Regions from separate parts of the Homo sapiens genome. Here region 1 is linked to region 2. The links come from fine-mapping of genetic effects on gene expression. A gene starts in region 2. The other region holds a variant in brackets. All regions are shown on one strand. Distances are between the middles of the regions.

Evidence for each region. PIP is the estimated chance that this variant, and not a neighbour inherited with it, causes the effect.
Region 1: its variant is the best candidate, but not a certain one, in a credible set for the expression of FRMPD4 in fibroblasts (GTEx, PIP 0.85).

Annotation. Positions count from the first base shown.
Region 1 is chrX:12,385,220-12,389,613 of GRCh38, forward strand. All of the region lies in intron 1 of FRMPD4 (FERM and PDZ domain containing 4), which reads left to right. Among named protein-coding and RNA genes, the nearest start is that of FRMPD4-AS1, 12 kb to the left of the region's middle. The variant A/C (reference allele first, on the strand shown) is at 1,999.
Region 2 is chrX:12,136,297-12,140,690 of GRCh38, forward strand. FRMPD4 (FERM and PDZ domain containing 4) reads left to right here and starts at 2,177. Exons shown (of 17, transcript NM_001368397.1): 1 at 2,177-2,716. The coding sequence starts at 2,676.

The DNA of each region.
Region 1 (4,394 bases), 250 kb after region 2:
GGTGGTGCCTTGGCACATCAGCTAACATCTATTGGTTATCAGTGAAATTGGACATGACCTGAATGGCCTTAAGTGCAGAATTTCAGTGTAATCACATGACATTGTGGGGCTAGGCAGTTTAAAGAGCACACTAAGAAATTCTGTGTTTCCCATCGTGTCTATGCAACGGAACCTTAGAGCAGCTTGGTGTAGAGAGGGCAAGTCCCCTTCTGACCTGCTGCCTGTGATCCCACACTGCTGAGAATATAGATCTTATTCAGTAATACCAAGGGACAAGGTCAGTCCTTCAGTTACTCTGTATAATTGTCACAAGGTCAGTAATTAAGTGGACTTGAATTTATAATAAAATCATTCCCGAGTGGAAACGCCAATCAACAAAAGTTTACCCGTTACACATTGAGTCTTAAAGAGGGAACTGAACTACACCAAAAATTGCATATTTCACAAATATGTTTAAAACAAGAGGCTTTGGTGAATTTTAAGGAAAGTATATTAACATGTAATTAAAAACAATGAAAAAGGAGAATCAAAGAGTTTCTAAGAATAATTTAGATTGTCACTGAGCAAAATGGTAGATAAGAACCTGCACCTTAACCCACAAATAAAGCAGTCCAAAGAGAAAGAGGGAACCTTGTTTGAAAAAGCTGTTTGGAGGAGTTTAAGATAGTGCTTTGTTTTTCTCACAGTAAGTTTCCTCCTAATTGCAATCCAAGGCCTTTAAAATCATTCCTTTGACAGTCCTATCACACATTTGGAATGTGCACAAATAAGCAGAACTCTGCTTTTCAGGTGAGCTTTGAGATTACCCATCTCTTGCTTCTCTTCATTGAACTTGAAGATTTTCAAGTTTCCCAGGAGCAAAACCTTACTTAGGAAATCACATAAAGAACACCCCTATCTGCCTCATAATTGGAAACAAATCCCAGCCCTTCAGAGTGAAACCAGGTGTTCAGAGTTAAATCTCATAACATCTGGAAGGAGCTCAGTGCAGCTGAAATTTCCACCAAGTGAAATGACCCTCTCAAATGATGAGGTACAAAGCAACAACCTATTTCTGTGGAAAATTACATGATAGAGAAAAGCTTGGGAGAGTTGGCACCCAAATACAGACTAAATGGTTTATGCAGTGGGTGAACAGAGGAAAATTTATGAGCAGCCAAGGACGAAAGTATGTGGATGGATTGATTAGGAGGGACTTTTTCTAATTTTTGTGGTTCAGCCTTGAATTTGATAGATGAGATCCTCAAAGCATTCTGGGGTCTATCTAACCCTCTCAGAGTTTGTACGTCATAGCTGACTGCTTGTTGAATTGGTACACTCTTTACCTATTCAGTTTGCTTCCGGGAAATAAAAGAACCAGAATGAATTATCTGCTCCTCTGCTTGTTTTACCGTAGCCGACTTATCATCATCTTTGCATGAAAATGCCTTAGCAGTTCTTGTGTGTTTACCTAATATGTCACTGGCTACAAAGGGGCTGGCAGTGGATGATAGAAAAAAGAGGTGCAGCTTGAAGGACAAAGGCTTTTCATCAAGAGTAACAAGTGGCGATGATGATAAATATATAAAATGGCAAGAATTTGTCATCAGAAAAGGAGATTATTTTGTTATAAAGAGATCTAGCTAGCCTTATGGGGCGGGGTGGGGGCTAGGCAGAGAGGCTGACCCTAAAGAATCATTACGGACAATTTGTTTTTTGTTCTCATCCATATCAGAAGAAAAGCATTTGCTGAACAGTTAGTAGTTATACTAGAAAGAAATCAAAGTATGCAATTCTTGGCAAACAAAACATAAAGAGAAGCTTTTTTAAATTTTATTGAAGGCTATTTTTCTTTACTGTATTTAGTTTTAACTTTGTGTTCATTGGTTGCTCTATTCTTTTAACTACCGAGTTAAGAAATCTTAAAACAATAGGGAAGCCATCCTTTCTTTGTCTCTGAGTGAGATGAATGTCTAATGTTTAATGATATTAGGAAGCTTTTTAGTAACAAAATTTGCA[A/C]ATGAAACCTTCATAAATATTTTTCACTGTTTTGGATCCCACAAACATTCTCAGGGCCACAGATATGTTAAACTTGCGTTAACACCATTTCACGCAGACCTGGTAATTAAAGGCTGTTTATTTCTATTTTACGGCATTAAACCTAAGCCTCTAAGAAATTCTAAGACAGATTAAATAATGTCAAAGCAACTGCCTGAAAGATGCTCAATGGAACACTAGTCTTATTGATTATAGAGTGAAATGAATCTCACTCAGAGGCAGAAGAAAAGTTATGTCGATGAACAAAGCTTTTTAATAAGGTGTCACGATTGAAGAGAGAGGTTGAAATCAGGTCAATAAGAAATGCATAATTCAAATGAATTCATCGTGGATCAACATCTTGCCGGAAATCCCTCTTGTAGATGAGATTTAATAAAAATTATGTTAATAATGCAACTTCTTAAATTGATATATGGGTATCATGTCAGGGACTGCTGTTTTTTGTTTGTTTTTTTTTTTCCTGTAAGTCTCTGAGGACTAGATGAGCAGGATGGTATATGATATAAGACAAATTCTGAAATCCTAAAATACTTTCTACCCCTTCTCTCCCCTTCCATTCTTTCTCAGGCATACAATAGATTTGTCTCGGTTGTGGTCTTAGCACATCTGAGAGCCAGCGTCCATGTCTGTGAGTGGTGTAATTGGCCATTGACCACCTCAGTTACCACTGTGGCAGCTCTTCCTTTGCTAGCCTTACCTCCAGGATATGGGAATCAATCTTAAAAAAAAAAAAAAAGTAGTATAGTTATATAGTAAAATACTGTACAGTGATGCCAAGAATGAACTACTGTCATACAGTATGGTGACAGAAGTCAGAATAATGAAAACTTCCGGGGAGAACTGGGTATTCACTGGGAAGGCATAAGAGGGAAACTTCTGGGTGCTGGATATGTTCTATATCTTGGCAAAAGTGTTAGTTACAAGGGTCTATACATATGTAAAAACTCACTGAGCTATACACTTATGATTTATGTACTTCATTGTATATACTAGATTTTAATTCAAAAGTTTTAAAAAATCAATTCAAATTTGTAGATGCAAGATATATTCTTAACAAAACTAAAAATAGGCTGGGTGCGGTGGCTCACGCCTGTAATCCCAGCACTTTGGGAGGCCAAAGCGGGCAGATCACGAGGTCAGGAGTTCGAGACCAGCCTGGCCAATATGGTGAAACCCTGTCTCTACTAAAAATACAAAAATTAGCTGGGCATGGTGGCGTGCACCTGTAGTCCCAGCTACTCGGGGAGCTGAGGCAGGAAAATTGCTTGAACCCAGGAGGTGGAGGTTGCAGTGAGCCAAGATCATGCCACTGCACTCCAGCCTGGGTGACAGTGAGACTCCATCTCAAAAAATTAAAAAAAAAAAAACTAAATAAAAATAAAATATCTATATGATATAGCAATCCCACCCCCACTTCTTTTGGTTATTTACCCAAAAGATCTTAAATCACTTTGTTGAAGAGATGCCTGCACTCCCATGTTCACTGCAGCACTATTCACAATAGCCAAGTTATGGAATCAACCTATGTGTCCATCAACGGATGAATGGATAAAGAAAATGTGATATATATATATATATATATATATATATATATACACACAATGGAGTACTATTCAGCCTTTAAAAAAGAAGAAAACCATGTCATTTTTGACAACATGGATGGAATGGGAGAACACTATGCTAAGTGAAATAAGCCAGGTACAGCAAGACAAATACCACATGTTGTCACTTACGTGTGGAATCTAAAACAATTGAATTCATGGAAGCAGAGTAGAATGGTGATTACAGGGGCTGAGGGGTGGGAGGAACAGGGAGATGTTAGTCAAAGGGTACAAATCTCAGACACGAGGAATAAGTTATTTTGTGAGATCTACTGCACAGTGTGGTGGATATAGCTAATAATAGTGTACTGTACATTTCAAAATTGCTGAGAGTGGCTGGGCGCGGTGGATCACGCCTGTAATCCCAGCACTTTGGGAGGCTGAGGTGGGCGGATCACCTCAGGTCAGGAGCTTGAGACCAGCCTGGCCAACATGGGGAAACCCTGTCTCTACTACAAATACGAAAAATTAGCCAGGCGTGATGGTGCATACCTGCGATCACAGCTACTTGGGAGGCTGTGGCAGGAGAATCACTTGAACCTGGGAGGTGGAAATTGCAGTGAGCTGAGATCTCACCACTGCACTCCAGCCTGGGTGACAGAAAGAGATCCATCTCAAAAAAAAAAACAAAACCAAACAACAACAACAACAACAAAATTTGCTGAGAGTAAATTTCAAATATTCAAATATTTAAGGTAATGGATATGTTAATTAGCTTGATTTAATTATTCCACATTGTATTCATAAATATAACAC
Region 2 (4,394 bases):
CTTGTGGAGCTCCAGTGGGAGATTCAGACCAAAAAAAAAAAAAAGAAATCCTAAAGATAAAAATAAATTATATAGTGTGCTAGTGGGTGATAAATGCTATGGAAACAAGAAAAAAGAATAAAACAGTTAATAGGGACTCGGAGTCCAGGGTGTGAGAACCTTTTGCAATTTTAAATTGGCTTTCTAGAGGGGGCATTTTGGAAGTGGTATTGGTGCATACATTTGACAGGGTGGAGAAGCCGGCCATGCAGATATCCCAGGAAAGAGCATTCCAGGCTGAGGGAACAACCATTGCAAAGAGCCTAAGGTGGGAAGATTACCTGTAGAGTTTGAAGGATAGCAAGAAGTCCAGAATTGCTGGAGCCCAGTGAGTGTATGTGTGTGAGAGAGGAGGGGCTCGGGGTAGGGGATGAGGAGGGACAGAGAAAAACGGGAGAGGGAAGTGGGCAGTAATAGTTGAGGTAAGAAAGATCAAAGGATACGGGATCTAGGGTCCTGTTGGCCCTTGCAGGAGCGCAACTTTAGCTTGACGGACAATGGGGAGCTTTTACATATTTTAGATCAGACAAGTAGCCTTATGTGATCTACGTTAAAACACACACACACACACACACACACACACACACACATACACACACACAAAACATCTTTTTGTCTGGTATGTTGAGAATAGATTATGGCATAAAAATAAAAGATTTCTAAATATATTGCCTTATATGAAAAGGTTGCGATGAGACTCCAATGCAAAAAAAAGCTTTAAAAATTATAAAGCACAGTGCAGACCCAAACTATAATTATTTTACAAACAATAGAGTTCAAAAGCCAAGGTCCCTCTCGCCCCTTCCGATCCTTGAGTAGTAACTGCGTTCATGCAATTAAACTAGCCTGTTTAATAGAAGCTGCAGGAAAACTGATAACTATGTATTCAAAAACATGTAATTTTATGCCTGAGTTTTAAGTCATTTAGATTTTGCAGATTGCTATTTATTTTATGTTCAGTTTTTGAAATAAATGCTTAAAAAAAACGCTTTAGTACTAGGCTTGAATACTGAAGACTTTAAATATAACAACAGACCAGGAGAGGAGCAGAAGTGTGGGAACTTTAAACCTATTTCTTTCTTAATCCCCTCGGAGAGCTAGACTGGAACACTGGCTGGATCTTCCAACATTTCTGGGGGTGCTCTCTGTTCTTTGCGGTGGCCCTGCCGCCAGGTGAACGCTGCCGGTGGGAGAGCACACACTTAGTGCGGCCAGCTGACCTTCACAGTCTGGGGGGAAATTTTAAAGGATTGTGGAGAAGAGGCCTTGAGACTTCAAGAGGAAGAAGAAAAAGGGGCCCAATGAAGCCTGAGCCTCCCAGGAGGTAGAACTGAGTTAATGAACAGGGCTGATTATCCAAGGTAATTATGTAAAAGAGAAGGCTAGGAGGAGTTCTAGATGGCTGCAACTTGGAGTTTACTCTGCCTAAGGTGAGTGTTTATGTTTCTGTGTTTTTGCTTCTCCGGCAAGGTTTTGTTTTGTTTTGTTTTTTTCTTCCCTGTTCCCTTCACCCAAGGCTCAGTGTGCAAAAGCAGCTCGCTCTGCGTGGCAGACCCCATTCTAATCCTTCTCTTTCCTTAGATTCTGAGCCCGGTTAGAATTAGCCTCCGCATCACGGGCTCCTGGGACCCTCCGCTCTATGCTCCTCGAGGAGGGAGCAGCTGTGTTCATCCCCCTACCCGCAAATGCCTCCGGTTCTTATTTGGCAGACACTCCCGCGGTGCTGCTGTCCAAAGACACACCTTCCCAGCCAGCCCAGTGGTCACGTCTCGCCCCAGCGATTCGGGAGAAGCAGTGGGAACTCTGAGCTCCCCGAATCGAGCCCGCTGCGCCTGGCATCTCCCTTCCCTTCCCCTTGACAAACGACCCAACCTCAATCATCCCTGCTCCTTCCGAACGCTAGTTTTGTTTACGGAGCAAACCGAGGCTTTGAGCAACCTGCGGTTGCACGGCTCTCCTTCGGCTTGGGGAGGGAGGGGTAGCGTTCACAGTTCTCCAGTGTGCCATAGACTGTTAGACCAGATCCTTCAGATCTAGAGGCACACGCAGTGGGTGACAGGAGAGTGCCCCCTCCCCCCGGGCGGGTGGGGGTGGGGAGAGGAGCAGGGACTCGGCTTGGAGAAGGAGGCAGGGAGGCAGCTGCAGTGCTGCGAGGGGTGCGTGCGCGTGTGCCCAGCTCGCCTGCCGTCTCCCGGCTCCGTCTGCGCTCCTCGGTGCGTGGGGCACGAGGGTCCGAGGGCCGGGAAGCCAGAGCAGCGCCTCTCGCCCAGGCCTCGCTTTCTCTGGACGCCCGGCAGTCCCCGGGGCTAGAGCGCACGGGGCGGGGCGCGAGACCCGGGCCGCGCTCCCCGCCCCCGCCTCTTGCGCCCTGCCTGGCTCCCTCTCCATTGAGTTTTCCTGCCTCGGGTGCCTATCAATGGTCCTGCTCGGGGATGCACACGCAGCTCGCGGCCGGAGGGGGGTAGCAGCCGCCGCCTCCAGGTGCAGGTTCTCTCCGGCCGCCGCCGCCACCCGCTGTCGCCGCGACTCGAGCCCCGGGCGCACTGAGGTCTTGGCCATGGGGCTGCGGAGGCTGCTGTTGCTGGCGTGAGAAGGGGCGACGGAGTTGTCGCGCTCGGGGGTCCCCAGCTGCCTGCATGGATGTCTTCAGCTTTGTGAAGATTGCAAAGCTTTCGAGGTAGGGGCTGCGCGGGTTCCGTTTGCACCCAGGGCCGCTGCCGCGGGCAACTTGGTGCCTTATTTTTCGGGAGGCTGGGTAGAGGCAAAAGCTGGAAAGCGCGACGGGGCTTAAGACAAACGAAGTGGCCGGGGGCTTCCACGTTCAACTTATTTCTCACTGGCTGCTGAGGCTTGTGTAGCGGCGGGTGTAGACCACACACAGAGAGGTACATACATGCCCTCACCAACACACCGACATTCACGACAGTTTGTTTTCCCTAAGGAAAAGCCCCAGCGGTGTTTGGGGTCCCATGTATAATTCAGGGCTAAGAGAAGATGGTTGTAATTGCTACTGCTAGGGAAACCCAGAAGTGCTTGGAGCTTGGGTGCCTGCCTTCCAAGCTGCAAAGACCAAAAGTGCCGCCTTCCCCCAACTCCTAAATTACACCTCCACACCTCCACAAAGTCAGCTCCTAGATTGACCAGGTGCTCCCAACGGTAACCTAGATGGCGAAGTCATGTAGATAGAAGAGAAAGACTTTCAGCCTTTTTTTTTTTGGGGGGGGGGTAACTATATTCTTAAGCCTCGAAAGATTTAGAAATTTTCTTCTAAGTGGCCATGTTGTTAAAACAGTAGCTAAAACTAAATCATCGATTCAGACATTTTTGGGTAGTACTGATAAAAGAGGAACATTTCCACGCTTGGGCCGCCTAGGTGTTGCCTGGCCAGAGCACTCCTCCAGGTCTTCTGCCCTGCTTATGCTTCCAAAGTCTTCGTTTGAGCCACAGAGTAAGGTTTGTGCTGCTTGCTATGTGGCATTAATTGGGAAGAGCCCAATAGGAGTGGTCTTAGAAAACCATGCCCAACCTTCTCTGCCCCTGGAGCTCTTTATAGCAGCTACCACCAGGACGTAGGAGGTAGACAGTTGGGTTTTTCCAGGATGTAGCTTAAAAACTTACTTGCAATATGGACAGAATAATCCCAGGTTTTCCTTCAGTCCTGAGTGTCAGAGTGAGATGTGTTGATTGCATCAGGCAGGGATGAGCAGCTTCCAATAGTCAGAGGTAGAAACGTATGTTGACTTTGCTTTATTAAATTACATTAGACCACTTCAGAAAGGTTCTGTTTGGATGTTGCCATTCTCTCCGACATCTACAGGTCTTTGTTCTGCCTGCCCATCTCCACCTTCCCTTTCTACTAACATGGGTCAGTCTTCATGCCACTAGCAGATTTCCCCAGGCAGAAAGGCCCAGTGCAGCTTACTCTAAGTAGACTGGAGATACGCAGTTGATGGGTAAATACCTGTGTCTTAGAGCAGCTCAGGAAGAGGTGTTGTCCTGCAGATCAGAAGACTGATGTGTTAAGCAGTGGATGATTGTGGTGTGGCCAATTGTTTGCTTTCAAGCTGATCTCATAGAGGGCCATTGCTTCACACCACTATTCTATTAACTTCCTGCATGCTTCTGCCTAGGGCTAGTTTCTAAACAGCTGTCAAATATTGAACCATGGTTGGGAAGCAGCTGTGTGCAAGTTTAGAGGCTAAGTGGTACCCTCCGTGTGATGGACAGAGATACTGCTAAAGGGAAAGGGAAGTTCAACCAATAGTATAGTTCAAAGTAACCAGGATACTTTTTGGTGGCCTCAGATGCTAAAAACAGTTTAACAAAACATCTAGAGCCTCGATTTAGTCCTTAAA